7 separate regions of the Homo sapiens genome follow, and regions 1, 2, 3, 4, 5 and 6 are each reported to be linked to region 7. The links are microRNA targets in miRTarBase. Many come from high-throughput screens and were not tested one by one. Region 7 holds a microRNA gene; each other region holds the end of a gene's coding sequence.

Evidence for each region. Region 7 holds the annotated microRNA hsa-miR-125b-5p (UCCCUGAGACCCUAACUUGUGA, at 2,778-2,799, opposite strand). A microRNA usually pairs through its seed, bases 2 to 8, with sites in the 3' UTR of a target mRNA and lowers its output. Matches are read on the target gene's strand: a 7mer-m8 pairs with bases 2 to 8, a 7mer-A1 pairs with bases 2 to 7 and ends in A, and an 8mer does both.
Region 1: miRTarBase lists RGS19 as a target of hsa-miR-125b-5p. The part of its 3' UTR that is shown has no 7-base or 8-base seed match.
Region 2: miRTarBase lists B4GALT3 as a target of hsa-miR-125b-5p. Seed matches in the 3' UTR shown: 7mer-m8 at 2,778-2,784.
Region 3: the mRNA of PRKRA is a reported target of hsa-miR-125b-5p. Seed matches in the 3' UTR shown: 7mer-A1 at 3,322-3,328.
Region 4: miRTarBase lists PCDHGB2 as a target of hsa-miR-125b-5p. Seed matches in the 3' UTR shown: 7mer-m8 at 1,202-1,208.
Region 5: miRTarBase lists KRT7 as a target of hsa-miR-125b-5p. The part of its 3' UTR that is shown has no 7-base or 8-base seed match.
Region 6: the mRNA of MYEF2 is a reported target of hsa-miR-125b-5p. The part of its 3' UTR that is shown has no 7-base or 8-base seed match.

The regions. Positions count from the first base shown.
Region 1 is chr20:64,070,370-64,074,444 of GRCh38, reverse strand. RGS19 (regulator of G protein signaling 19) reads left to right here. Exons shown (of 6, transcript NM_005873.3): 5 at 67-301; 6 at 401-1,264. The coding sequence ends at 592. It overlaps TCEA2 (transcription elongation factor A2), which reads right to left. Exons shown (of 10, transcript NM_003195.6): 7 at 4,031-4,075; 8 at 3,810-3,956; 9 at 2,504-2,575; 10 at 2,098-2,273. The coding sequence ends at 2,265. Among named protein-coding and RNA genes, the nearest start is that of MIR6813, 4.6 kb to the left of the region's middle.
Region 2 is chr1:161,168,578-161,172,577 of GRCh38, forward strand. B4GALT3 (beta-1,4-galactosyltransferase 3) reads right to left here. Exons shown (of 8, transcript NM_003779.4): 7 at 3,650-3,754; 8 at 2,733-3,512. The coding sequence ends at 3,239. PPOX (protoporphyrinogen oxidase) reads left to right here. Exons shown (of 13, transcript NM_001122764.3): 7 at 416-606; 8 at 1,083-1,143; 9 at 1,329-1,447; 10 at 1,832-1,942; 11 at 2,043-2,192; 12 at 2,330-2,372; 13 at 2,457-2,643. The coding sequence ends at 2,599. Among named protein-coding and RNA genes, the nearest start is that of PPOX, 4.2 kb to the left of the region's middle.
Region 3 is chr2:178,428,320-178,432,394 of GRCh38, forward strand. It overlaps PRKRA (protein activator of interferon induced protein kinase EIF2AK2), which reads right to left. Exons shown (of 8, transcript NM_003690.5): 8 at 3,095-3,935. The coding sequence ends at 3,778. CHROMR (cholesterol induced regulator of metabolism RNA) reads left to right here. Exons shown (of 5, transcript NR_110204.1): 3 at 2,451-2,570. Among named protein-coding and RNA genes, the nearest start is that of CHROMR, 17 kb to the left of the region's middle.
Region 4 is chr5:141,510,844-141,514,918 of GRCh38, forward strand. It overlaps PCDHGB2 (protocadherin gamma subfamily B, 2), which reads left to right. Exons shown (of 4, transcript NM_018923.3): 4 at 104-2,132. The coding sequence ends at 330. It overlaps PCDHGA1 (protocadherin gamma subfamily A, 1), which reads left to right. Exons shown (of 4, transcript NM_018912.3): 4 at 104-2,132. The coding sequence ends at 330. PCDHGA2 (protocadherin gamma subfamily A, 2) reads left to right here. Exons shown (of 4, transcript NM_018915.4): 4 at 104-2,132. The coding sequence ends at 330. It overlaps PCDHGA3 (protocadherin gamma subfamily A, 3), which reads left to right. Exons shown (of 4, transcript NM_018916.4): 4 at 104-2,132. The coding sequence ends at 330. It also overlaps PCDHGB1, PCDHGA4, PCDHGA5, PCDHGB3, PCDHGA6 and PCDHGA7, and 13 more genes. Among named protein-coding and RNA genes, the nearest start is that of PCDHGC5, 24 kb to the left of the region's middle. RefSeq lists enhancers at 343-452, 2,691-3,316, 2,862-2,981, 3,317-3,942, 3,722-3,971 and 1 more.
Region 5 is chr12:52,248,155-52,252,229 of GRCh38, reverse strand. It overlaps KRT7 (keratin 7), which reads right to left. Exons shown (of 9, transcript NM_005556.4): 8 at 4,019-4,053; 9 at 3,309-3,639. The coding sequence ends at 3,470. It also overlaps the pseudogene KRT87P. Among named protein-coding and RNA genes, the nearest start is that of KRT7-AS, 2.7 kb to the right of the region's middle. RefSeq lists enhancers at 1-294, 1,824-2,430.
Region 6 is chr15:48,139,113-48,143,187 of GRCh38, forward strand. MYEF2 (myelin expression factor 2) reads right to left here. Exons shown (of 17, transcript NM_016132.5): 17 at 1-3,959. The coding sequence ends at 3,796. SLC24A5 (solute carrier family 24 member 5) reads left to right here. Exons shown (of 9, transcript NM_205850.3): 7 at 1-63; 8 at 2,001-2,102; 9 at 2,917-3,560. The coding sequence ends at 3,239. Among named protein-coding and RNA genes, the nearest start is that of SLC24A5, 20 kb to the left of the region's middle.
Region 7 is chr21:16,588,977-16,593,051 of GRCh38, reverse strand. MIR125B2 (microRNA 125b-2) reads right to left here and starts at 2,815; the gene lies at 2,727-2,815. All of the region lies in intron 6 of MIR99AHG (mir-99a-let-7c cluster host gene), which reads right to left.

The DNA.
Region 1 (4,075 bases), not on the chromosome of region 7:
TGCGTGCTGGGGGGGCCCCAGACCGGGAGACTCGGGCCTGACATAGCCTGGCCCCCGTGCCCACAGTGCCACGCCAAGTCCTGAGGAGGTGCAGAGCTGGGCGCAGTCTTTTGACAAGCTGATGCACAGCCCAGCGGGACGCAGCGTGTTCCGGGCGTTCCTGCGGACAGAGTACAGCGAGGAGAACATGCTCTTCTGGTTGGCCTGCGAGGAGCTGAAGGCCGAGGCCAACCAGCATGTGGTAGACGAGAAGGCGAGGCTCATCTACGAGGACTACGTATCCATCCTGTCCCCCAAGGAGGTGCGCCAGACACCAGAACAGGCCGGGGGCCGCCTGCTCCAGGCACTAGGTGGGGAAGGCAGCTCCCGCACCCCCTGACCTCAGTGTCTTGTCCTGCAGGTGAGCCTGGACTCCCGTGTGCGGGAGGGCATCAACAAGAAGATGCAGGAGCCGTCCGCACACACGTTCGACGACGCGCAGCTGCAGATCTACACGCTCATGCACCGGGACTCCTACCCCCGCTTCCTCAGCTCTCCCACCTACCGTGCCCTGCTGCTGCAGGGGCCATCACAGTCCTCCTCCGAGGCCTAGGCCGCCCCCAGCAGCACAGACCCCGCCGCCTCCTACGGCCGACTCTGGGTTCCCTTCAGGTGTTGTTGTCGGCAGGGCTGTCAGGGCACATGCCTGGCCGGCTGGGGTCCCCACCCGCGGAGACGGTCCTAGACCCAGTGGGGAGTGCTGTGTCTCCTGGGTCTGCCCACCCGTGGCCAAGCAGGAACTCCAGGTGCAGGGCGGGCCTCCAGGTGCAGGGCGGGCCAGAAGCCCCCTCATCGGCCCGCAGCTGGCTGGCCCAGTGCTCCTGGCTGGGGGCTCTTGCGTGGTGAGAGTAGGGGTCCCCCCAGGAGCCATGCTGGACCCATGAGCCTCGCTGGGGCCTCCTCCCCAGGCAGCCAATGGGCCCCAGACAAGCCTTTGGTGGGGAACAGAACCTCCGCATCGTGTAGTTTTGTGACATAAGGAGACCTCCTACTTGAGCTGTCTGTACCCCAGAATCAAACACAGAACCTCAGAACCAGATTTAGGACCTCAGAATCCTGCACTCAAGGTGGCAGGACCCAATTTCTGTTTTATATGTTCATGAACTTTAAACCTGGAAACATGTCCTTACTAGGTGTTTTATCAAAAAAAAGTTTTCATATTTATCTCTATCCCTAACCCCCCAAAAATAGGATGTCTTATTATTGAAGATATTTTTAAAGCAAAGTCTCTACTCATTTTTGTCCAAGTCTGGGGAGAGACTGGAGAATGAGTGGCCCCAGACTCAGGGCTGGGGAGAAGTGTCCTTGTCCCAGGGCAGGGGCTCCAGTGCCCCTTGGAGGGGACACACAGCCGTGTGCTTGCCCTCTTCCCATGCCCTGGCCTCCACCAGACCCCTCCTCAGAACAGTGGTCCCAGTGGGTGGCTGTGCTTAACCCTGCCCGGGGCATGAGCTCCACGCCCTCGGCCTCAGCCTCCTTAGCTGAAAGTCGGGCCAGAACAGTGACCCACAGCACCTCAGAAGTCGAGAGGCAACAGGAGGTGCCGCCCAGGCCCAGCCGGACGGGGTCCCCAGAGGCAGGCTGGCTGGGGCAGGAGGGGCCACTTGGTGCCAGGCCCAATGTCATCTTTCTCATCTCACAGGCCCCATGAGTTGAGTGCTCACCAGCCCATCCCCTGCATTTCTGGGAAGTTAAGTGAGTTGAAGCTGAAATTGGCTCAGGGCCCTGAGACCACAACTCCCACAAGAACAGAGAAGGCAGCATGGGGACAAGCTGTCCTGAAGTGCCGAGAGGTCCCGAGCTGCCCATGCCTGAGGCGTTGGGGAGGACACTGCCCTGCACAGGACGCACACAAGACCCTCTCCCCACCTGCCCTCACAGGCAGAGCCGCCCCAGGTGATCTCTGAAGGTCAGCCAAGCTCCTCTCCTGGGGCTGACCCACCAGGGCCAAACCCAAGCACTGCCCAACCCCAGGGAGGGGCCTTGTCCACAGCAGTGGAAACGGGTCAAACATGGGGGACAGGGGCCCACCAGGAGTAACGGCTGAGGAGAACAAGATGGCAAAAAGAAACATTTAATAATGAGGGGGAAAGGGCAGAAAGGTGCAATCCAGGCAGGCAGGTTGAGGGCAGGACATGCCGCCTTCTAGGGTCTCCAGAGAAGCTGTGTCAACGGAGGACGTGGGCCGGGGAGGGCCCAAGGCTGCAGCACATCTACACGAGGGGTCAGCAGAACTGCGAGAAAGGGGGTGAGGCCTCCAGCCTTGTGGCCACATGAGATCCCCCAGAGTGGAAGGCCGCACAGGCTCACCCAAGGCTGGGCTCTCCACCCACCATGCCCAAGACTCCCAGGAGGCTGGTTGGGCAGGGCCATCCCCAGTTCACACCACAGACCCCACAGAGGCTGAGACACCCCACCTCCAGAGAATGGAGCTGGGAGGGGCAGCCTGAGCCTGCTCACCCACCTTCCAGCGGTTTCCACACTCGTTGCAGACAACAAAGGTGGTCATGGGCTCATCAGAGCTGCGGGTCTGCACCTGTGAACAGGGCTGGGTGAACCCAGGGTCACCTCCATGCTCCGCTGCAGACGGCATCCCCTCAACATGGGCAGTGCGGGCCTCGCAGCCACTGAGCTCCCACAGGTGACCTGATCCGAGGCCGCCTCGTGACTCCAACCTTCCAAAGCTGAGCCTCCGGGGGAGGGAGACAGAGTTTATCGGGGCAGAGGCCCTTGTGTGAGCCTGAAGCAGCTCACATTGGCTGGGGACCAGGAGGGCCCAGACTTGGCTGAGGGCAAGAGGGTCCCAATGGTGGGGGGAACTAGCAGGGGTCCCCAGTGCCCGCGGCTGCCTTCCGGAAGGCCCAAGGGTGAGCCTCCGGCCACAGGCAGAGCCTGTTCTGACCAGTGGCTGGGAGCAGGAGAGAGGCAGGCTCTGCACCGACCCAGGCCCCATGCAGCCTTCGAGGGGAAGGAAAGGCTGTCCTTGCAGCCCCTCACGAGTCCCATCTGCCAGGTGCAGCGGCCGCCTCGACACACTCCCCTCTTTTTTTTTTTTTTAAAGACGGAGTCTCGCTCTGTCGCCCAGGCTGGAGAGCAGTGGCACGATCTGGACTCACTGCAACCTCTGTCTCCCGGGTTCAAGTGATTCTCCTGCCTCAGCCTCCTGAGTAGCTGGGATTACAGGCATGCGCCACCACGCCCAGCTAATTTTTGTATTTTTAGTAGAGACGGGGTTTCACCATGTTGGTCAGGCTGGTCTCGAACTCCTGACCTCATTATCCGCCTGCCTCGGCCTCCCAAAGTGCTGGGATTACAGATGTGAGCCACTGCACCCAGCCGCACTCCCCTCTTAACAGGGTCCCTGCCATCTCATGGGATCCACAGTCTCCCCAGCACACTCAGTGTCCACCTCCATGGCAGGGACTGAGGGTCCTGCAGTCACTGCCAGGCAGCAGGCAGCACGGCCCTCCCACCAACATCAACACCTCGAGGGCCCTCCGTTCAGGCTGGGCTGGGCCAGGCCAGGCCCTCTGACTTGAGTATCCGCAACAAGTGGGTCCCACCACCCAAGACGCCGCCCCGTGGAGCCCAGAGGTCCTGGGTAGAGGGGAGTGGTCCCTGAAGGTGGCCATCATGCCTTAGCCTACTCAGGGACTGAGAGGCTCGGGAAATTCATGCAGCAGAGGCGGGAATAGGCATGGGCTCCAAGGAGGGGCACCAGATGCCCTGAAGACACCGGGCCCGGGGGAGGGTGCCCAGCGGCCGCTCACCTGTGTGTAGGTGCAGTTCTTTTTCCTGCACTTGCCGCAGGTGAACAGGTCTGTCTGCGTGCCGCCAGTGCGGGCCATCTGGTGCTCTCGGATGGCCTCCTTGGTCATGGCCTTACGGATCTCCTTCAGCTCATCACTGGCCATCTCCTGGAGCACGGGGCCAGTGGCTTAGCCCACCGCTCCGAGGGAGCAGCCCTCCAGCCCCTCCAACAGGGGCTCACCTCTGAGGTCATCACAGCGATCTGCTGGGGTGTTATGGCCCCACA
Region 2 (4,000 bases), not on the chromosome of region 7:
TGAGGGGGGATTGATTCAGAGGGTGAAAATATTAAGTACTGCCAAAGTGAGGGAGTGGGGACAAGGGGTGCTATTCAATGATTCTTTTTTTCTTTTTTGAGACGGAGTCTTGCTCTGCTGCCTAGGCTGGAGTGCAGTGGTGCAATCTCAGATCGGCTCGCTGCAACCTCCGCCTCCCAGATTCAAGCAATTCTCCTGCCTCAGCCTCTTAAGTAGCTGGGATTACAAACATGTGCCACCACTCCCAGCTAATCTTTGTATTTTTTTGTAGAGATGCAGTTTCACTATGTTGGCCAGGCTGGTCTCAAACTCCTGACCTCAAGTGATCCACCCGCCTCGGCCTCCTAAAGTGCTGGGATTACAGGTGTGAGCCACTGCATCCAGCCTCAATGATTCTTCTTTGCTTCCTCTGCAGGGCGGACCCCACAGCCAGACTCAGCACTCATTCGCCAGGCCTTGGCTGAGCGCTGGAGCCAGTGGTCACTTCGTGGAGGTCTAGAGATGTTGCCTCAGGCCCTTGAAACCCACCTGACTAGTAGGGGGGTCAGTGTTCTCAGAGGCCAGCCGGTCTGTGGGCTCAGCCTCCAGGCAGAAGGGCGCTGGAAGGTAGGGGAACCCCTGGAGTGTAATGAACCTGTCAGTGTTTCCATCTTTATCCAAGTGGCTTAACTAGGCCAGGGCCGATAGGACTGGAGTTCCTCATTGTTTTTGTGCCTTAGAAGCTACTTAGACATGGGCTACCCCAGAATCCTAGGCCCTATTTGTGAACCTTCCTCAAAGAGCCTATGCAAGTCTGTGGATAGAAGTAGTACTTATAAGTGGCTTAGAGATAGGGGAAAGAACCCAGCTTCACTGAACATTTCAGAACAGCCACACTGGCCTGTCTGGTCCACTTCCTGGAGTACACAGAGGAATGATTTTTTGTGAAGTCTACATAGTCACCCAATCTCTTCATCCTGGGTCAGTACACAGTCTCCCCGGCCACATGGGTGCCTGGGAAACTGAGAGTGAGGCACCAGAAGTCTCTTTTCACTCATCAAATTCTCATTTTCTGGGTCTCTCAAATGTTTTCATGCTCTCAGGTATCTCTAAGGGACAGCAGTCTGGAGGCTGACCACGTTATTAGTGCCATTCCAGCTTCAGGTAATGGAATAGCCACCTTCCCCTTCCCCAACCCCTACCAGTGAGAAGCAAAAGCTATACCTTCCTGGGTCAGCAGGACCACACCATGCCCCTGAACTGGTCATCTCTATGGGAGTCTAATCCCAAAGAGGACTGACAACTGTAATGGGAATGCCTTCTGAGTCAGGCCTCTGCCTGATCTCTAGTGCTCAGTGAGCTGCTCCCTGCTGAGGCTGCCCCTCTGGCTCGTGCCCTGAGTGCCATCACTGCAGTGTCTGTAGCTGTGGTGAATCTGCAGTACCAAGGAGCCCATCTGCCTGTCCAGGTATGATAAAGGGACGGAGAGGCTGGGCATGGTGGCTCACACCTGTAATCCCAGCATTTTGGGAGGCCGAGGTGGGCAGATAACAAGGTCAGGAGTTCGAGACCAGCCTGGCCAACATGGTGAAACCCCATCTCTACGAAAAATACAAAAATTAGCCAGGTGTGGTGGCTTGCACCTGTAATCTCAGCTACTCGGGAGGCTAAGGCAGGAGAATCGCTTGAACCCAGGAGGTGGAGGTTGCAGTGAGCTGAGATCTCGCCATTACACTCCAGCCTGGGTGACAGAGTGAGACTCTGTCCCCCCCACCCCCCCAAAAAAATGGGAAGGAGAGACAGCCTCAGCTAGAGCCCTTTCCTTCTGACGCATGAATGTCCTTCTCTCCAGGGATTTGGACATTTGGTGCCATCTTCAGAAGATCCAGGAGTCCTGGGAATCGTGTATGACTCAGTTGCTTTCCCTGAGCAGGACGGGAGCCCCCCTGGCCTCAGAGTGACTGTGAGGAGGAGGAAACTTTGCCTAGTGGCATTTCCAGAGGGCTCCTCTGTGCTCCATTGTAGGCAAGGCCAGACTGATCAGTGCTATATTCCCTCCTTAGGTGATGCTGGGAGGTTCCTGGTTACAGACACTGGAGGCTAGTGGCTGTGTCTTATCTCAGGAGCTGTTTCAACAGCGGGCCCAGGAAGCAGCTGCTACACAATTAGGACTGAAGGAGATGCCGAGCCACTGCTTGGTCCATCTACACAAGGTAAGTTGGGATAAACTTCCCTCAGCTCTCCACTGAAGGCCTTGAAGACAGAGACTGGAACATTTGTCACTGTATGTCAGCCAAGGCCTAGGACATCAATAATAAACTTTTCCCTGCATCCTCTCCTCTCTTCTCAGAACTGCATTCCCCAGTATACACTAGGTCACTGGCAAAAACTAGGTAAGTTGGGAAAACAGCTGGGCTGAGGAGGGCCAAGGACATCAGACCCCCAGCTAAAACATTCCTTTCATCCTTTCCTTCCAGAGTCAGCTAGGCAATTCCTGACTGCTCACAGGTTGCCCCTGACTCTGGCTGGAGCCTCCTATGAGGGAGTTGCTGTTAATGACTGTATAGAGAGTGGGCGCCAGGCAGCAGTCAGTGTCCTGGGCACAGAACCTAACAGCTGATCCCCAACTCTCATTCATGAAAATAAAAATTGCTGGAGCTTGGCTTGGTCTGGCTGTTCTATCACCTATAGGCATAAGAATGCGGGGCAGCAAAGAGGCAAAGTGTGCCTGGGATGCAGAAAGCAGGAGCAGATGCGAGACAAAGTCCTTTATTAGAAAATATATCAAAATCCCAGCCCCCTGAGCCAGGACCAGAAGAGGGAGCTATTCCAGCATAGGCAGAAAATGCCCAGGGAGGGGCTTCCTTCACCAAACAACTTCCCGGGAACCATAAATAGAATAAATATTCACAGAGGTCCGAGGAGAAGCCAGATCACTCTTCTCTCCATGGAAGAGGGAGGGGCTTGGGGTCCAGCCCTGCTCCTACTCTAGGGGCAGGGACTCCTAGGAATCGTCACATAAAATCATGACATCAAGGATTCACAGTCATAAGCCCTACAGGAGACCCTAGAGAGAGGGACCCCTCAGGTCTACAGGAGCCCAGCTCCAGTCCAGCAGTGAGGGAGAGGCCCCTACCCCCTAGCACGGCACCAGAGTTCAGTTCCCTCACATCCCTCTGAGAACAGTGAGGAGCTGAGGGTGGGGAGAATACAACCCCATGAATTCGGTTTCATGATTAAGGTAGACAGGAAGGAGGAGTCAGTGTGAACCTCGGAGGGCTGTGTGGTTGGCAGTAGATAGAGGCCCAGGCCTGGCTGGGGGCCGGCGTTGCAGCATCTCTTGACGGAAGGCTTGGGAGGAACCAGGTGGGTAACGTGGCCCAGAAGGAGCCCGAGGACCCCGAGGGTCAGTCCCAATGTCTGCTGTGATGTTGGTATAAAGAGGCCCCAGCTCTCGAGCCAGCAACTGGTATGTCAGTGAGTTCATCCCATCTTGCGTCCAGGAATTCTGGGTACGGACCAGGAGGTCAAATCTGAGGGTTAGAGGTTGGAGACTAAGACCCAGAAAGGAACAGCCAGAAATCTAGGGACCTTTAGGATTTTCCTGGCTAGGGGTACAGAACCCTGAGGATCCAGTAACAATTCCCAGGCAGTCCTTCCTTCTTCCTACCTGTGGGGATTTTCCTCATTGCCCTTATCTCCTCGGTGCTTCACCATCTTATAGTGTCCTACAGATGTGGGGGGCCGAGAGATCTTCATCCCAGCCAGGCGCACCCTATGGGAAAAGTGAGGGTATCATGGGGGATCCAGAGTAGAGAAAAGCAAGGAAGGGATTAAATGTTTCTGTACACACAAAAAAACAACTATTACTTAGTAGGCAAAAGAAAAAAAAAGCCCAGGACAGAAGTCAAACAGAAAGAAGGAAATGGCTGAAGAGAATATAAAAGCTGGATGTATCCAAATCCTCAGGGCCCAGTGCCAGTCACCCTAGGGCCTTTAAACAGTTGGCAACCTATTCCCT
Region 3 (4,075 bases), not on the chromosome of region 7:
CCATGTGTCAGGGTTCCATTTTTTCCCAATCAGGGTCCTGACAACAGCACAGTAGACCTGCCTAGCTTGGGTCCTAACTTCTTTGGAGTTTTATTCTCATGACTAAGTCCTGGGCCTGGTCCTCAGCTTCCTCTCCTCATTGGCTTGAGAACCTGAGAGTCTCATATTCTACGAGGGAGGCTTTCTGGCCCTCACACTGAGTTTTTGTTTGTTTTTGAGACAAGATCTTGCTTTGTCACTAAGGCTGAGTGTGTAGTTGCACCCAGGCTGGGAGTGCAGTGGCACAGTAAGCTACTGTAACCTTGAACTCCTGGACCCAAATTATCCTCTGGCCTCAGCCTCTTGAGTAACAGAACAACAAATGCATGCCACTATGCCCTGCTGATTTTAAATTTTTGTGGAGATGGGCCTTGCTATGTTGCCCAGGCTGGTCTTGAATTCCTGGCCTCAAGCTATCCTCCCTTTTCAGTCTTCTGAGGCACTGGAATTACAGGCATGAGCCACGGCTCTTGGTCCCACACTCAGCTTCTAATTACCAACTAATCACTCTCATTCTTTTATTTTGAGACAGGGTCTCATTCTGTAGCTCAAGCTGGAGTACAGTAGTGCAAATATAGCTCACTGCAGCCTCAAACTCCTGGGGTCAGGTGATCTTCTTGCCTCAGCTTCCCAAATAGCTAGGACTACAGCCACAAGCTACTGGGCATGGATAATTTTTTAAATATTTGTAGAGACAGGGTCTCGCTATGTTGCCCAGGCTGGTCTCAAACTCCTGGCTCAGCCTCCCAAAGTGCTGGGATTACAAGTGTGAGCCACTATGCCTGGCCCATTCTCATTCTTCTGTTATCTTTTTCCAAGGTATCGGTCTAGCTCAGTAATAACTCTTCAGTTCCACTGTCTACACTGTTTCCCACCTGATCTTCGTGCCTGCCGGTGCATTTCTTTGTGTTGACATGCCATCTCAGTTCACCACTAGTCAAAGTTTTAATAACTGCACTGTCAGGGTGTGCTAGCAGTTAACTTCTCCCTGCCCCAGTGAGGAGACTCTCATCCTATAAGTGAGAAGGCAAGAGAAATGGCTCCAAAAGCACACTGGAGCACCTACTTTCCTGCAACCCTTCTGATACCAAGTATCACAGATGCTGAGATGAAGATTAGTGGGTAGGAGATTTGGATTGCCACCTGTGGAAAGAAAGGAAACTCCACTGGGTGGAGGAAGAATATGGACTATGATGCAATCTCAAAGGTGGCCTTAGCTGACACTAAGGGGAACTCTGAAGCTAGGATGGTCTTTCAGATTGTTCTAATATGGGGCAATGGGACTAGTCTTTGCATGCAGCCTGGCCCAAGAAGGAAGTGTGACTTCAGATGAGGTGGCTCTTTTCACTTAAGAGGGCAATTCTACTGACAGCTGAGGGCCGTTGGGTGCACACTGCCAGAGCGAGAAAACAAAATCCTCTGTAGGGAAGGGGACTGTGTGGCATATCACAGCACACCCCGAGAACAAGGGAGCGGCTCTTCATCAAATAACACAATATGGGCCCACATATTCCCAGAGGCTGCTATAGTGCTGGGCACATTAGTGCTCAATAACTTATTGAATTAGTATTATCATATTGTGCTATTGCCATCCTCATCTTTTAAAGTCACTTATCACTTAATGGATGTTCTTGTTAGAACTGACACTATGAAGATGACTATGACACAATTACCTGTTGAGCCTATTTGAGAAATTAACCTATATTTAACAAGTTTGACTAATTAGATTGGTTAAGAGCCTTAGCAGAGGGCTAAACAAAATGGTGTTAAAGAATACACCTGATGGTCCAAGAAAATCCCTAACTCCCTAGAAGGTCTGGATAGTCTGAGAAGTGACATTCGAACAGTGTAATGCACTTTCCTCCAGAGCCAGAAGCAGGGAAAGCAGAGGCAGCAGCAATTTTATCTTCTGGGCACCTTATCCTCAGACCTCATTTTATCAATACATACGGACTGTCTACAACCACGTAATATCCTTTTCATCAGCCTTATGAAATTTTCCCCCAATTTATCCAAGTCAGGATTTCAGTATGCAGAAGTCTAATGTCATCTTGGAGAGTTCATTGTGCCTCCCCCATATCCAAGACCATTTACTAAAACCTTAGTTCAGTCTTTAAAGAGTCACAAGATCCTATTATGCCTAGTTTTTTTTCCAGTCTTTTAAGTCTATTCCTTACCTTGCCAAAAAAGTACCTGTTTCTATGGTTTAACAAATGGAGCTTAGAATATGGAACTATGGTAAGTGCTCTTTAGAATTTAAAATAAGTTACATGTACTGGTTTTCCTTTATTTTGTAGTTTTGTTCTCAAAGAATTCCAGATATGATTTTTTTCCAGACAAAAATACCTGCTACATGCTTCCTTCTGTATGAATACATGAGACCTACCTTCATTCATGTTTCCTCTATGAAGCTTTCCCTGCACTCCAAACACAGAGCTGAGACTTCCACCTAATGTAGAAAGCTAGCACGAGCCGGCGCTGACAGATGGAAGACTTGAGATGTTACAAGATTATATATGGAAACACAAAAGGTAAGGTTAAAATCTGTTCATTAGACTTATTTCCTAACCTTTTAATCACTCATCACTTTGGAACATTCTTGCAACTGAACTGAATAAGCTGGGAAGGTTTTTTGGGTAATTCTACTAACGCTTTTTTTTTTTTTTTTTTTTTTTTTTTTTGAGACAGGGTCTCACTCTGTCACCCAGGCTGGAGTGCAGTGCTGTGATCCTAGCTCACTGCAGCTTTGATCTTCTGGGCCCAAGCAATCCTCCCACCTCAGCCTCCTGAGTAGCTGGGACTCAAAGTGTGCCACCACACCTGATTTTCTTTTTGGTAGAGATGGGGACTCACTATGTTGCCCAGGCTGGTCTCAAACTTTTGGCCTCAAGGGATCCTCCCACCTTGGCCTCCGAAAGAGTTGGGATTATAGGCATGAGCCAACATGCATGGTCAAATGCTTTTTAAACTAGTAATTCACCTGTGTATGGTTATGTCAAAGAAAAATACAAGGTTGCATACGCTTAGAGAAAGTAAGGAAGTAACCCATTACATGTATGTTTGTAAATTTTACTTAGGCCATCATTTTTTATTTTCACCTTTGAATTTCAAAGTAAATTAGAGATATGTAAATAACAGAATTATCAACATTAAAATCTTATTCACAATGGCTAACAAGAACAGGATGACAGTCAAGTCAGTAGCTTTTTAATAAAATGAGCAGAATCCCATCGTAACAGTTCTTTGTTACATGAATTCAAATACACAGCAGACCAATCATGTTCCCTGAAATTTAACAATCAATCATACTTAATAAAGGCCTGTTAGTGCTGTCCCTCAAGACTCTAATTCTAAAGGGCTTCCTTTGAATTCCCTTTATAAAGCTTTGTGCAAAGAAGAGCTTAAGCACCAGTAAGAAAGACTGTCGCTAGCATTTTTATTTCATCATCAACAACAAACATGCAGTTTCTTTCTCTGATGTGCATGGCACTGTAAAATGGGTGCTACACTCTCTCTTGTGGTACAAAGTTTATAAATACAGTATACTGATACAAAGTTGAAGCCATTAAAAAGAGCTTAATAACAACTATGAGGAGATAATTAAATCTGGAGTGTTGATGGAATCTATGAAGAGATTTAGAAACAAGACATAAACACTACGGTAAAAGTTTTACTTGGGAAGGGGCCAGAGGGGAACTTTTTATGTGCTACTGAAAGATTTTTTAAGTTGCTCCAGATTTACTTTCTTTCTGCTATTATCTTTAAATACTGCAAAGCATTGTGAGCTGCATCACTTTGTGCATTGCCACAGGAGATACCGGAGCCATGACAGACTGTGATGGGGCTGGTGGACAGTTCAGCAAGACATTGATATTGTCCATTGGCGCTCAGTTCATCTGTAATGACACATTCAAGGATGACGATTAATGTCCAATATGTATAAAGTGGATCCCTTTGTAAAAACAATACAATTCTTATTATTGTCTTTCTTTTTAAGCCTCCATGGTATACTACACCACTCGCAATCTTTGTTTTG
Region 4 (4,075 bases), not on the chromosome of region 7:
CCCAGGGTGCTGTATAGGCATTCATTAACTGCTGGGGATATAAGACAGTGACTGTTGAGGACCCTAAGTTTAGCTCCCACCTGATCTTCCTCTGTCTCTGCAGAAGCTGCTGATGGGAGCTCCACCCTGGGAGGGGGTGCCGGCACCATGGGATTGAGCGCCCGCTACGGACCCCAGTTCACCCTGCAGCACGTGCCCGACTACCGCCAGAATGTCTACATCCCAGGCAGCAATGCCACACTGACCAACGCAGCTGGCAAGCGGGATGGCAAGGCCCCAGCAGGTGGCAATGGCAACAAGAAGAAGTCGGGCAAGAAGGAGAAGAAGTAACATGGAGGCCAGGCCAAGAGCCACAGGGCGGCCTCTCCCCAACCAGCCCAGCTTCTCCTTACCTGCACCCAGGCCTCAGAGTTTCAGGGCTAACCCCCAGAATACTGGTAGGGGCCAAGGCCATGCTCCCCTTGGGAAACAGAAACAAGTGCCCAGTCAGCACCTACCCCTTCCCCCCCAGGGGGTTGAATATGCAAAAGCAGTTCCGCTGGGAACCCCCATCCAATCAACTGCTGTACCCATGGGGGTAGTGGGGTTACTGTAGACACCAAGAACCATTTGCCACACCCCGTTTAGTTACAGCTGAACTCCTCCATCTTCCAAATCAATCAGGCCCATCCATCCCATGCCTCCCTCCTCCCCACCCCACTCCAACAGTTCCTCTTTCCCGAGTAAGGTGGTTGGGGTGTTGAAGTACCAAGTAACCTACAAGCCTCCTAGTTCTGAAAAGTTGGAAGGGCATCATGACCTCTTGGCCTCTCCTTTGATTCTCAATCTTCCCCCAAAGCATGGTTTGGTGCCAGCCCCTTCACCTCCTTCCAGAGCCCAAGATCAATGCTCAAGTTTTGGAGGACATGATCACCATCCCCATGGTACTGATGCTTGCTGGATTTAGGGAGGGCATTTTGCTACCAAGCCTCTTCCCAACGCCCTGGGGACCAGTCTTCTGTTTTGTTTTTCATTGTTTGACGTTTCCACTGCATGCCTTGACTTCCCCCACCTCCTCCTCAAACAAGAGACTCCACTGCATGTTCCAAGACAGTATGGGGTGGTAAGATAAGGAAGGGAAGTGTGTGGATGTGGATGGTGGGGGCATGGACAAAGCTTGACACATCAAGTTATCAAGGCCTTGGAGGAGGCTCTGTATGTCCTCAGGGGACTGACAACATCCTCCAGATTCCAGCCATAAACCAATAACTAGGCTGGACCCTTCCCACTACATAATAGGGCTCAGCCCAGGCAGCCAGCTTTGGGCTGAGCTAACAGGACCAATGGATTAAACTGGCATTTCAGTCCAAGGAAGCTCGAAGCAGGTTTAGGACCAGGTCCCCTTGAGAGGTCAGAGGGGCCTCTGTGGGTGCTGGGTACTCCAGAGGTGCCACTGGTGGAAGGGTCAGCGGAGCCCCAGCAGGAAGGGTGGGCCAGCCAGGCCATTCTTAGTCCCTGGGTTGGGGAGGCAGGGAGCTAGGGCAGGGACCAAATGAACAGAAAGTCTCAGCCCAGGATGGGGCTTCTTCAACAGGGCCCCTGCCCTCCTGAAGCCTCAGTCCTTCACCTTGCCAGGTGCCGTTTCTCTTCCGTGAAGGCCACTGCCCAGGTCCCCAGTGCGCCCCCTAGTGGCCATAGCCTGGTTAAAGTTCCCCAGTGCCTCCTTGTGCATAGACCTTCTTCTCCCACCCCCTTCTGCCCCTGGGTCCCCGGCCATCCAGCGGGGCTGCCAGAGAACCCCAGACCTGCCCTTACAGTAGTGTAGCGCCCCCTCCCTCTTTCGGCTGGTGTAGAATAGCCAGTAGTGTAGTGCGGTGTGCTTTTACGTGATGGCGGGTGGGCAGCGGGCGGCGGGCTCCGCGCAGCCGTCTGTCCTTGATCTGCCCGCGGCGGCCCGTGTTGTGTTTTGTGCTGTGTCCACGCGCTAAGGCGACCCCCTCCCCCGTACTGACTTCTCCTATAAGCGCTTCTCTTCGCATAGTCACGTAGCTCCCACCCCACCCTCTTCCTGTGTCTCACGCAAGTTTTATACTCTAATATTTATATGGCTTTTTTTCTTCGACAAAAAAATAATAAAACGTTTCTTCTGAAAAGCTGAACGTTTCTGTATAAGCGATGGAAGCTCCTGGCATGTGTGCATGAAGTGATGAGCTGAGGTGGGTGCTGGAAGAAGGGCGGAATCGGGAGGCCACTTTGTGTCATTGCGCGTCTAGATGTTTCCGAATTGCGTGTGTGTGTGTGACTGTGCAATATGGTTGTGTATGCTTGCAATGCCGTTGTGCCTATGAGACAGTGTGCGATTGTGTGCCTATGGATCTGTGTACCGTGTGCCATTGTGTGATCGGTCCGCTGTGGGGGTGGGGATCTGAGTGCGGCGTGTCAGTGTGCAGTGGAGTGTGCAGTCTAAGCTTGCGGCTGTCTCCAGGCAGAAGAGGAGACCCCGGCGCGGGCGGGGGCGGGTTGGCGCCGGGCAAACGCCTTGGGTAGAGGGGAGAGGACGTTTCGTTAGTTCCCGCCCCTTCCTGACTAAAATTGCCTACCCGAAGCGCCCCGGAGGGCTTCACGGGAGGAGGGTAGACTCTCCTTTGCCCCCGCACCCCCACCCCCGCTGCCTAGGGGTTTTGGGAAAGCCGCGGGAGTGGGAGGGAATGCGGGAGGTGATTCTTCCAAAGCCAAGTCTGCAGCTCGAGCCTCAGTTTCCCCATCTGGAATTCGCCTTCCCGCTGACATCTCCGTAGCGAAGCCTAAGAAATTGGAGGGCTCATCCTCTTCTTGCGGGGGTCAAGGGGACTGAAAGGACGTGCAGGAAATGAGATCCATCGCAGACTCAGCTCCCCTCCCTCCTTCCTGTCGGTGCTTTTCCACTCACTCGCCTGCTCTCCCATCTCCCCGCCCCCTCCGCCTGCCTCCTCGAAGCACTGTGGGATTCCGAGGTTGCTGCAGCCAGAGAAGCTGCAGAAAAACACGGAGCTGGGGGTGAAGGGGGACTTAAAAGGGGAACTACCCGGAAGGACCCAAGAACACAAAGACAGAGCCACTGCGGTTATCTGGCTGGTCAGCAAGGGTATGCGGCTTCCTCCGCGCTGCGGAGGCTCCCAGAGCCAGGTCACCCATTCTGCCAGCTCAAGTCTGTTGTCATGGGAACCAAACCTTCCAACTTAAGAATCTGGGGGCGACTTTCTAGCGTGGGAGGAAGGGTGGTGTGCACGGTTGCTGAGATGGAAGCAGGGTTTTGTTACTCAGAGCCAGGCTGCGGAGGGGCGGGGTGCCGGGCGCCTGGGTTCTATTCCAGGCACAGCAGCAGACTGGCAGAGCGCGTGAGCAGCTGTGGTTTGTCCCCTAATTGGTATGTGTGCCTATAAAGCTCTGAACCAGAAAGGCGTGGCCTCCGGGGGGACGGGAGGGAGGCGGCAGGCAACCCATCCCCACACCTCAGGCCATACTGAGGAGGCAGCTGCCCAGGCTCCAGGGCTATTTAAAAGGCTTTTATTTCCAGTTCCAGAGCCCGCCCGAATGGGTTTGTGGTCCTCTCCAGGCCTCTCCCTGTCTATCCTGGGCCTGCTCATTGCTGGTCTGGCTTTTTTGTGCAGGTCATAACGTGCTCAGACAAGTATGGCTCCAAGTGGCAAGTCATCTGGAGCATGACCTCAGGCTCCCAACCTCTGCTGGGCAGGCTCAGGTTTCCACCCCAGGGTAAACCCCTCTACTCTGGAATGTGGTCTGTGGCCACCAACAGAGCAGAGGGGATGAGAAAATGGGAGCCAGATGCTTCCCTCAGCAAGAGACACAGGTACTGCCAGGAAACCTTGCGTGACATCTGGGAACATGAAAGGTTCCAAGTGAGTTCCAAAAAAGGGCTCCAAACCAAGTAGCAGCAATGTGGAAGAGTCAGGGAGCTGAACCAGGCGCCCACTCCTTTACTGTGGCCAAACGGCCCTGAGGTGAGCTCTGGTGGGGCAGCAGCCACCATGTATTAATCATCTCTAGCCCTGTGCCCAAGTAAAGTGTCTGGCACCTTTAGCTTTTTCACAGTGAT
Region 5 (4,075 bases), not on the chromosome of region 7:
TCAGTTTCCCCCAGGCAGTGCTGCAGTGCTTCAACACCCAGGAGCATGTCTGCATATTATTTACTTGGAATGTGCATCAACGCTAATTGGAGGAGAGAATTTGCAGGTTAAACAGATTTCACCAGCTTTGCTCCCCACAACTAATTTCTGTCTCTTTGCTTTCCCTATAAGGTTGTGTGAGGGCGTTGGTGCTGTAAATGTCTGTAAGTAATCCATTTTGTGGGTCCTGAAATAACAGCTTGGGGTTCTGGGCAGGCAAACTTTTTCTTAGAGCTTCAGATAGTAAAAACTTTAGGCTCGTGGGCCATGTAGTCTCTGCCTCAACTGCTCCACTCCGTTGTCATGTAAAGCAGCCACAGCCAAAGGCAATACTTGAAGGAAGCGGTATGACTGGGTTCCAAGAAAACTTGATTGACAAACAGGAAGCCTGCATGTGGCCGTAGTTTGCAGACTCTAAAAGGAAAGATGGAGTGGGGCAGTGAGTGCTTATAGTAACTTAATTAGCTACAGTCATGTACCACATAAGGACTTTTAGGTCAAGGATGGATGGAATATAGGACAGTAGTCCCATTAGATTATACCATATTTTTACTCTACTTTCCTAGGTTTAGCTATGTTCAGATACACAAATACCTACCATGGTGTTACAGTTGCCTTTAGTCTTCAGTACAGTCACATGCTGTACAGATTTGTAGCTTAGAAGCAACAGGCTATGCTATAGGGTAAACTTGTCAAACCCCTGACCAGAAGGCTGCATACAGCCCAGGACGGCTTTGAATGTGGCCCAGCACAAATTTGTAAACATTCTTAAAACTTACGAGATTTTCGTGTGTGTGATTTTTTAAAGCTCATCAGCTACCGTTAGTATTAGTGTATTTTATGTGTGGCCCAAGACAATTCTTCTTCTTCCAGTGTGGCCCAGGGAAGCCAAAAGATTGGACACCCTTGGGGCCTGGGTGTGGTGGCTTACACCTGTAATCCCAGCACTTTGGGAGGCCAAGGCAGGTGGATCACTTGAGGTCAGGAGTTTGAGATCAGCCTGGCCAACATGGTGAAACCCCGTCTCTACTAAAAATAAAAAAATTAGCCGGGCAAGGTGATGGACACCTGTAATCCCAGCTACTAGGGAGGCTGAGGCAGGAGAATCACTTAAACCCAGGAGGCAGAGGTTGCAGTGAGCCGAGATCGCGCCACTGCACTCCAGTCTGGGCGATAGAGAGAGACTCCGTCTCAAAAATAAAAATAAAAAATAAAAAAGGTTGGCCACCCTCGCCACAGAGCCCAGGTGTGTAGTAGGCTACAACATGTAGGTTTGCGTATGTGCACTCCATGATGTTCGCACAATGACAAAATCATTTAATGCTGTATTTCTCAGAACATGTCTCTGTTGTGAGGCGAAGCATGGCTATGTCTGCCTATAGAGAGGACCTGGGCTAACAGTGTATCAAGGACGCCTGAGGCTAAGACTGCAGGAAGGAGTGCCCATGTGAGGGTTTGAGGGGCGCGCATAGAAACAGAGGGGAGAAGCTCTGAGCAGAAGGGGCCTCTGGCCGCCAGGAGACTGGGCCCTGTCCTCCCCCTCTGGCAGGTGTCAGCAGCTCTCGCGGCGGGGTCTTATGCGGGGACCTGTGCGTGTCGGGCTCCCGGCCGGTGACGGGCAGCGTCTGCAGTGCCCCCTGCAGCGGGAACGTGGCGGTGAGCACCGGCCTGTGTGCGCCCTGCGGCCAGAGCAGCGGCAGCGGCCGCTCCGTGCGCTTCGCCTGAGCGCCCCACTTTGTACCGACGCCGCCTCACCAGCAGCAGCCTCTGCCTCCAGAGGCAGCCCGGAGCTCCCACGGTCCCCAGACGTGGGGAAGGAGGGCTTCGGGGCCCAGCCTCCCCATCGGCCCCCACGCCGCGCCTTCCTGTCTCGCATCCCCGCCCGCTAGTCCCTTCACTGCTTCCGAGAGCACAGGGCTCCTAGCCCGCAGCTCTCCCAACCCCCGAATCTAAAGGACTGTCCTCGCAGCCCTAGGTAAAGACCCCGGTCCGGAGGCCTGGATGCCTGTGGCTTCTGAGGGACAGATGGGCCTGGAGCCCCTTGGTGTGGACTTGCTGTGCCTTCTAATCCAATGTCTTCTAATACACGTGCAGGACAGGCCACCTCTCCTGCCTGGCTGCCTGGCTCCCTCCCTCTCCCCTGTGCTTGTCTCAGCATTTCCAGTAAAGCTCCTGATCATATGCATTGTGCCCTGAGAGTCTCTCCTTCCTCTTGCCCACTTGGTCTTCTTAGTCGGGAGGGAGAGGGCCTGGATCTCCTGACACCTTGGGTGGGAACCCCATCACTGTGGCTGCTGGTCCACTTTTTCCACTCTCCACCCCAGCCCCCACCTCAGCATTTGAAAGTTCCCTGACCATAGGGTCAAATATACAGACTTCCTCCCAGAAGCCAACACATCCCACATAGCTCCCCCATCCACACCACCACCATCACCCCTGGGGTCCCAGACACAGAGACCTCCCTGTGGCTCCACAGTACCCATCATATGTGCTGCTGCCCATCAGGGACACATTTCCCCATGCATAGGCCCTGCCACAGAACACCTGCCACACTCACAGACACACAGACCTGTGTGTCGGGGACTCTGACATAGAAGCCCCCATCAAGCACTGACTTAACACAGATGTCCTTCCCCACTCCCATGGATCCAGATACAAACCCATCCCTCCACTAAGGTCCTAGGCACAGACCTGTTACCGGGGATCTAGACTCTAGGACCCTCCTCCCATGCACACACACACCTCCCCCCCACAACCACTACCTCCACAGAATTCAAGATGCAGAGGACCTCTCCAGGGCCCCAGGCCTGGCTGACCATGAGCCTGGCAGACCCAGCACCAGGAAGGGCTGAGGACGGCTGGCATGAAAGTTGGCTGGGCCACCCGAAACTGGAAGCTGGGGCAGCTGAACGTCTGTGGCCTCCTCACAAAAGGAATGTGCTCTGGCAGCTCTGGGCATGGGGGGAGGGAGGCAAACAGCCTTTCCACCCCCTTAGCAGGGCAGCCCTCCAAGGCCCAATTGCTGGCAGAGCCTGCATTTCCCCGTGGCTCTTCTGGGCTTCCTCAGGAGAATCTTTGGGATCAGCCCCAGACCTGGAGGCCAAGGCTCACCCTAGGTAAGCGTCCTGCTCCTTAGAGCAGCACCCCATCCCACCATGTGCCTTCTCAGTCTCCTGCACAAAAGGCTTCCTAGTCACCAGGGAGACCCTGCCTTCTCTAGTCCCGTCTTTTCCCCTGCCCAGCCTCATGAAGCCAGGATACCAGGCACGTGGATCACTCAGGCCTCAGAATGAGGCTGCTTTATTGGAAGCTATTCTGACATCACTTTCCAGACTGTCTCACTGTCTTGGGACCAGGCATGGGAGGCAGGGGTGGGAATCTTCTTGTGATTGTGGGTGGTGGCTGGAGGAGTGGAGTGGTGGGAGGCGGCTCAGTCGCGGGCACTCCTGCGACTGGCGGATGCGGTCCGGATGGAATAAGCCTTCAGGAGCCCAGGACCCGCACTGCTGGAGAAGCTCAGGGCATTGCTGCCCATGGTTCCCCCGAGGGTCAGCCCAATGCCACCGCCACTGCTACTGCCACCAGTGGAATTCATCACAGCTGGGAGAGAAAAGAGGAGGGCTCTCTTCAGCGTGAGGCTCCCTACCAGGGACCCCATCCCTTCACTGCACCCCACCCTCCTGCCCCAGCTGCCCCTCTCCCTCACCCCTGCCCCCCTCCATGGGCCAACCCAGAAGGAGCATCTGACAGGGGTAGGGCTGCTCCCCAGGTGCTCCTGGCCCCACCCTGCCCTCTTGTAGTGCTTCCCAGGCCATTGAGCCTGGCAGTATGTGCTCCAGGGGACCTGTCAATCCCTGTAGAAAGGAAGGAGTCTCCTGGCCCCTCCAGCAGGGCCCTGGGCCAGTCTGCCATTCTCTAGACCCAGCCCCATCTAAACAGCACAAGGGATGCTTCCCATGGGCCGCAGCCAAGGACTTACAGATATTCACGGCTCCCACTCCATCTCCAGCCAACCTGGGGGCAGAGGACAGACAGT
Region 6 (4,075 bases), not on the chromosome of region 7:
TCATGTCTGCAATATGGATATCCGCATTTACATATATCCTGGTTTGGATGGTCACAATAACTGGTATGTATTTTAAGTACAATAGCACAACTTGAAAATATTCATATAAGAACAAATTGCATATGTTCACTCAAAGTAGTCTAGCTACACAGCAAATTTCTTTTCAGCAAGATTGAAGATTAGTACCATTTACAAAATGATTAAGTATTACTATAACAAGATCACTGGAGTTTGTGAGTTGCATATTATATATAAACTGTATTTTCCACTGTTATTTAGCCTGGGGTACAATTCAAGAGATCTTATAAATGAAATCAAATTCATAGGATGTCTTTTTATTATGCTAATAATTTAATCACATTCCATGGGGTCCACAATAAACTCTTTATATTGAATTCCATTCCATAATAAAAAAAAAAAAGAACAAAAAAACAAAAACAAAGCAAGGAGCTCTATTTTTGGGAAAACAATGGGTGCTCACTGCTTAACTGGATTGTATTTTATTTGGCTTTTCAACACGGCAATACAAACATATTATGAAATGAGTGAAAAGGGCATAATAATTTTATTCTAGGTTTCTACTACCTTCATGATTAAGACTTAACTAGCTACTGCTGCTTGGCCATAATCCACTACAGTCCCTAAACAAAAAAACTATGAACAAAGACAAAAATAATCTGTAATTTCTCCTACAAAGGTTAACCCAAATTAACTTACAGCAGAGGTGAACAAACTACTGCCTGTGTGCCAACATAACCCAGCTTGTTTTTATTAGTAAGGTTTTACATATTATCTATGATTGTTTTCACACTACATTGGCAAAGCTGAATAACTGCAACAGAAATCACACAGCCTGCAAAGCCTAAATAATTACTATCTGGCCCCTCACAGACACAAAAATTTGTTGACCCTTGACTTTTCCCAAATTAATGTAAGTCTCAGAATAGTATGCTAGCAAAAAGTGGACTACTTCTTCCTTTTTTTAATGAGAAAAATGAAAAAGTCCAATTAGCTTGCATATTATATCTATCCAAATTCACTCAGCCAGAACACATTTGATACTAGAAAAATAAAAAGAGAGCAAAAATCATGTAATAGATCACAGAACAGCCCCCAAGATGATAAATATTAGTGTTATTTATGCACATATGAATTCTAGCAAAGCCAGTAACAGAAATTAACAACCAATTCCAATTCCAATATCAATGTATAAGCATGCAATAAATAAGCTACTTTCTAATTATTTTAGTTGGCATTTTAAGAAAAAAAAAGAGAAAGAAAAAAAAGACGCTAAACCAAGTTTTCAATTACAACATTAAAGGAACAGTTACATAACCTTTTGTTTAACTTCTCTCTGGTTCTGTTTCTGAGAATAAATACATTTCTGAAAAATGTTGACCTGACATCAAATTTAACAGAAGTATTAATAAATTGGGACCATATGTTAGACTCAAGTAGAAAACAGGTTTTGTTTTCCTCAGAGATTAATGAACGTTCCCCCTCCCCCGCCCTGCCAAAGCCCACTAAATTAAGGTATATCACTAAAGTAGAACATAATAAATGGTATATATACATGTTAACACATTTATAGCTTAAAGATAGCTATAATTAATTTGCTTAACTCTGACTAATATTTTTAAGAAAGAAAAAGCGGAATGATCAGTCTCATTATCAAATATTCAGCACAGCCCTGATGAGATAATGGTGGACATAAACATCTTTTGTAAGAATATCAAACAGGAAAATTTCTCACTGGCAGAATTTTAGCTGTTACGTATCTTTAGATATGTCATTAAAAATCTGTGCTACCTGGGTTACCCGAATTACCAGCCTGATTCAAATATGTTGCTAGCTAAAAAACTAATAAGCAAGCACATATTGGCTCTGAATTCTAAATGTGCCTATTTTATTTTTGTTCACGAAGGAAATATCCAAAATAACTGCAAAGGATGGTTAGTGAATCTTTAAGATTTGTAACTTGAAATATCTGTTTATTACAGGGGAAACACTAGAAATTCCCGATACAGTAATGGGCCTTACTTTATTAGCAGCAGGAACAAGCATACCAGACACAATTGCAAGTGTGTTGGTTGCAAGAAAAGGTAAGAACTAGGTCCCTCAAGCTGCAATGGTCATTCTACAAGGCTAGAATGAGTAAAAGTAGCTTTAAAAATGTTTACTTCCAGCCGGGTGTGGTGGCTCGCGCCTGTAATCCCAGGATTTTGGGAGGCCGAGGCGGGTGGATCACGAGGTCAGGAGTTTGAGACCAGCCTGACCAACATGGTGAAACCCAGTCTCTACTAAAAATACAAAAATTAGCCGGGCGTGGTGGCATGTGCCTGTAATCCCAGCTACTCAGGAGGCTGAGGCAGGAGAATTGTTTGAATCCAGGAGGCGGAGGTTGCAGTGAGCCGAGATTGCGCCACGGCACTCCAGCAGCCTGGGCAACAGAGCGAGACTGTGTCTCAAAAAACAAAAACCAAAAAAAAAAAAAAAAGTTTACTTCCTCAGTAACATACTTTGAAGGGGGAAAAAAGTGACTCCAGAGGAAAAGTTTACTATTTAATAGCAGGTTAATTTCACTCAATCTAATCCCCCAAATAATATTCATTTGAAATGTGTGTTAAATAGTAATTAACCATTAACCATGTTAAATTACAATGAAAAGCAACAAATAAGCTATATACCTTATTGAAAAATGGTTTAATAAATATAATTATTAAATAAATGTTAAGACTTTAAATACTAACCCAAGAAAAATTTAAAAATACAAATTCAGTAAGACTTTTGCTCTAACAACAATTTTTCAAAACGAATCAACAACAAAAAAGTATCCAGTGTTTCTTTTCTTATGAAGATTATTAATAAAACACAGTATTGGTAAGCACATTTTAACAGTATGCTTTTCTTTTGTAGGGAAAGGAGATATGGCTATGTCTAACATCGTGGGATCCAATGTGTTTGATATGTTGTGCCTTGGTATTCCATGGTTTATTAAAACTGCATTTATAAATGGATCAGCTCCTGCAGAAGTAAACAGCAGAGGACTAACTTACATAACCATCTCTCTCAACATTTCAATTATTTTTCTTTTTTTAGCAGTTCACTTCAATGGCTGGAAACTAGACAGAAAGTTGGGAATAGTCTGCCTATTATCATACTTGGGGCTTGCTACATTATCAGTTCTATATGAACTTGGAATTATTGGAAATAATAAAATAAGGGGCTGTGGAGGTTGATATTATTAATAGTGTTATGCAGAAAATATGAATGGCAGGGAGGGGCAGAGAGAAAAATCCATTTCTTCATTTAAATCAAATTTTAAAAATCTTGAACCTTAGAATCTAAAACTTACAGTAATTTAAAACCAACCAAAATCACATCCTAATTTTTCTGAGCCCTTTCTTTTCATGAAAAATTACATATTATAAAACAGAAGTTTGGGGGGAAAAAATCTATGTTTTACCATACAATAAGTTGACAAAAACTGGAGAAACTAGAACAAACAAATCCAACTATGTAGTACTGAAAACAACAAGAAAATGGCTTATTTCATTAAAAACAGTATAACCATTCATTTAAACTGAATGACCAGACTTGCTGTCTTTAAAAACCCAAACTTGAGATTAACAAAAATTACAGTATATTTTTAACATTATACTGTTAAAAGCTGGTGGGAGTTTTAAAAGTTCATTTTTACAGCTTTTGTAAGCATACAATATTACTTTAAAAAAATGACTTTTACTAGGAGATTCAGCAAAACAGATGTAGGAATGTTCCAACCATGGCTTGAAATTATGCATTACGATCCAAGCGAACATCAATTTCTCTGCCACTGATTTTTATGCCATTCATTATTCTGCAGGCTTTTTCAGCTGATTCTGGGGAGTCAAATCTGACTGTTCCACAGCCTTTTGACTTTCCATTCTCCATTTTTATTTCTGCAAACATTACATGACCTGTAAAATAAAAGTTACAGAATTACTAGTCAGTTTAAATAAGTTCTATTTCACTTTATAGGTTTGAAATTCCTCATAGCCAATTGTGATAATTAATTTGATTAAAAACATTAATT
Region 7 (4,075 bases):
ATCCCATGAACCCTGAAATGAAATATAATCATATTTAGATTTGGCAAAATTCCAGAGTGGCTTCCTTGATGGATCCTAAAAGGCTTTAAAAAATGCTATTTTGGAAAATTGATGTTTTCCTTACAGAGATTAAAAGTTAAAAGCATGAATATCACAATATTATCAGAGCAATACAAAAGAGACAAAAGAAAAGCTAATACTTCATTGGTCTTTGGTAGATGTTGAAGTTGAATGATGATTTTTTTTGCCAAAAAAAGGAACTTGAAGTTCACAGTAAATTAACAAACAATATGGGAAAGAAAATGAATCAGGCAGGGGTTAGTATATTTATGTAAAACAGTGATTGGCTATTTCAAAATTAAAATGTACAAATAAGCTGGTGTCAGAAAGGAGATGATTCCTCATTTCCACCGCATTGAGCAAGCTCACATCGGCAGCAGACAGCCCTTAATATATGCGTCTGGCTCAGGCTGGTCTCCCAACCAGGAAGCCATCGAATTGTTAATATCACTGTTTTTTTTGCATGCAACACACATCATTTTCTCGCTCTTTGTTGTAGATCTCTCCTTTTTATTTTAAGCTTAGTATGATCTGATTTTCCAAATCATATCATAAAGCCCTAAAACAATATTATCCTGTGACAGCTGAGATAGAAATGCAGAAAAAGTGGCATCTGTCTATGCACATACAGCATAAAGTAGCCTACATAAGCAAAGTCACCCACTTAAATCTATATACACCTTTATGAAGTAAAAGAAAAGCTTTGTCAATGACGCTCTTGAAAGACTGTTCATATAGGAGGGTTACATAGAGAAGTTCCAATTGTGCAGGATTATCAGTAAAAAACATTTTATATGTTTATGGTGAAAATGAACAAACATGACTGCATTCTCAATTCAGTTTTGGTATATTTCTTTTATGAGACAGAAGTTAATATATAGTGTGGTTCATGAATATGATAACATTAAAAAATTTTCACGTTTGAATAACCTATATCTGATATCACTATAGCCAATAAACATCTACCCCTTACATTGTTTTGGAACTAACTTGATGGAACCTTTCACAGATATTATTTATGATCATGTTAAAACAGATGTTAGTAAACACATACTTGTATGTGATATTCTTTTTTACAAGAAGTACTTTCAGATCCATTGTGTGAACATTGCTATTAAATGTAATCAAGCTTCTGTGTACATGTAGACACACATACATAGATTTCTTTGTATTAAGAAACTTATGGTTTTAAAAAATACTCAATTCCAATGAGAATGAGGTCAAAAGAAATAAAAGATAAATACTACCAAAGCTCTTTACTGTTTATATTACCTCCTTTCATTTGGAGCTTTAAAACTTATATTTATACATATACATACACACACCTAAAATTTCAGAACTTCTAGATAAATGAAGTAGATGATATAAATAAAGAATCTGAATAGGTACAGTGTGCATACATGCTTAAACATATTCTGCATGCTTTATATAGATGTGTATGTTTATGATATTGTTATAGTAATTTTTAATAACTATGACTAATAGATGATTTGTATTCTGTAATATTTCAAGTAGGTATTATAAGAAATTTTTAAAAAGATGAACAAAGACTCCGTACAGTATTCTAAAATACATTCATAAATTTATTTTAACAATGCAGAAGACACATAATTTATGGCACCCATCTAAGGCAATAGTTAAAAGAATGAAGCCACTTTGTTGCTTCTATTAAGGAAAGTCTGTCATCTCCATTTTGAATCTTGATATTTGTAACATTATTGTAAAATTTTTAAATAGATTTAGCATACTGATTCTATCTCCAAGAAAGACATATCTGATGTGGCAATGGCTATTAAACTTTCAAATATGACATATTACTTATGGTTGGAATAGTTACCTCCGATAAAGCTAAAATTCTTATAAAACTAAAACTATGCAGTTCATATGCAGTTGCTAGTCAAAGCAGTTTGACTTCATAGGTGGCGTTTACTGTTTTATCTCACGTAGGCCCATGATATGTACACAGTAAACTGTAAAAAATTTTAAAAAGACATATTTTCCCAGATTATTGGTGAAACTTTCACTCTTGGACTCTCGTAACAAAATAATTGTTAGAATTGTTAAGACATATAAAGTATGTTGGTTGGATAGAAGACTCAGAAAAGCCCTGGCAATAAATACAAAGTATAAAACAGCATTCTTCTTAAATCGGTAGTAAAATCTAATAGGGTCAATAAAGAAGATTGTAAATCATGTTATTTCTAGGCCTCAAGCATGCTTATAGCTGTATATGACATAGTCTGAGCCATAGTTATATGGAGGCATACAGGATTTATTTAAGTAGCTAATGTATATATTTCAATGCATATGAAAAGTTATAAATATAATCCCCTCTCTTCATTAACTGAAGAGATATCCTCTTATACTAGCCACCTTAAAATGCACCAAAAGAAGCATTTTAAAACACTTATATTTTAATTTTGCTTCTTACACAGGTTTCTTATATTGCTTTTGTATGATCGTTATAATACAAACGCTATTTCAGTGCAACTGTGTAATCACTTTAGAGTACAGTTTCTGACAATAGTATTTTTGGGGATGGGTCATGGTGAAAACGTTGCTGATGATAAAGAAAAGCATTGTTCTTTTCTCCTAGGCAGAATCTATGTATGTTCTTTTGTTCTGGTGGTAACTGCAGACAATCAATAAGGTCCAAAGCTGCTGGTTCCCCTCCGCCTAGGTCCCAAGAGCCTGACTTGTGATGTTACTAAAATACCTCACAAGTTAGGGTCTCAGGGACTAGGAAAAGTCTGGTTTGATGCGGTAGAATTCTTCTTCCAGAAATAAGGATAGCTTAGAAATTACAGTTGGGTTCACTTAGACTTTTACCTCTAAATACTATTTAAAATACTTCAGTAGAAATATATATGATATATAAAAGTTAGGATGAGCTGAGTAATCACGACGACCATTTATAGACTAATTCCAGACCTTAAAATAATGAAGAATATGAGAAACAATGCAGACAATGAACAGTTAAGAGTCATTCCATTAGATCCAAAGAAAGAGACTAAACATGGGTTAAAATCTGCTTCTAGCAGATTTGTACAGCAACACCATAGCCTCTATTACATTAAAGAAGGATTATATGCCAGTTAATGGGACCCTAATTGAAATTTTGCTTCCCATTACACTGCTATACAGCACAACTGGTAAGGTGGGCCCAGGACATATAATACTTTAAATCGGATTTAAATATATACCGTTGCAGTTAAGAACAAAACAAAAACTTTTCTGCATGTCATAATTTAATACCTCTGAAGCTTGATTTTTCTCTTTGAATCTCCAAACTATTCAGACAGCAAATATTTCCACGCATACTCTGTAGTTATTTGAGCAATGCCACTTAATAAACATGTAATTTAAAATGCTGGCAACATCATAAAAAAACCATGATTCTATTTCTTGAATAATTACATTATAAAGCTCAATACTTTTAAAAATACACAACCCCAATCCTGTATATTCACTGAATTTCCTCCGATCTTTTAGCCTTGTTTGTGGTTCGAGAACAGAATTTGTACTTTAGGAATGATCCAAGGTTTAGTAGCATAGAACGCAGGGTAAAACAATCGGACCAGCCATAATGTAAAAGTCCTGGCCACAGAAGTGGAATCTGGCTCTTCTGAGGTGGTTGATCTTAAAAGGGAAAAGAGGAGGAAAAAAAAAAAAATGGAAAGAATTAGAATGTTTTCCTGTAGAACAGGTGAATCATCCATTTCCAAGTAAGCTGCAAGGAAAGCTATACTGCACAAAATATTTGGTAATTGGCCCCCCTCCTCCACCCTAGTACCACACCCCTTTCCAACCACCACCCCCCACCCCCTGTCCAGATCTTTACTCTGCCTTGTAAGACTTTAAATATTCTGCTCCATGATGTAATGCATCATTATATAAGATCTCTTTCTGTTTATCATTTGATTTCCCATACTGAATCACTTATGGCTTAAAATAAATAGTTAAAAAACAAAAACCAAAAAAACAAAAAAGCAGCACTCACAAAAAGCGAAAAAAT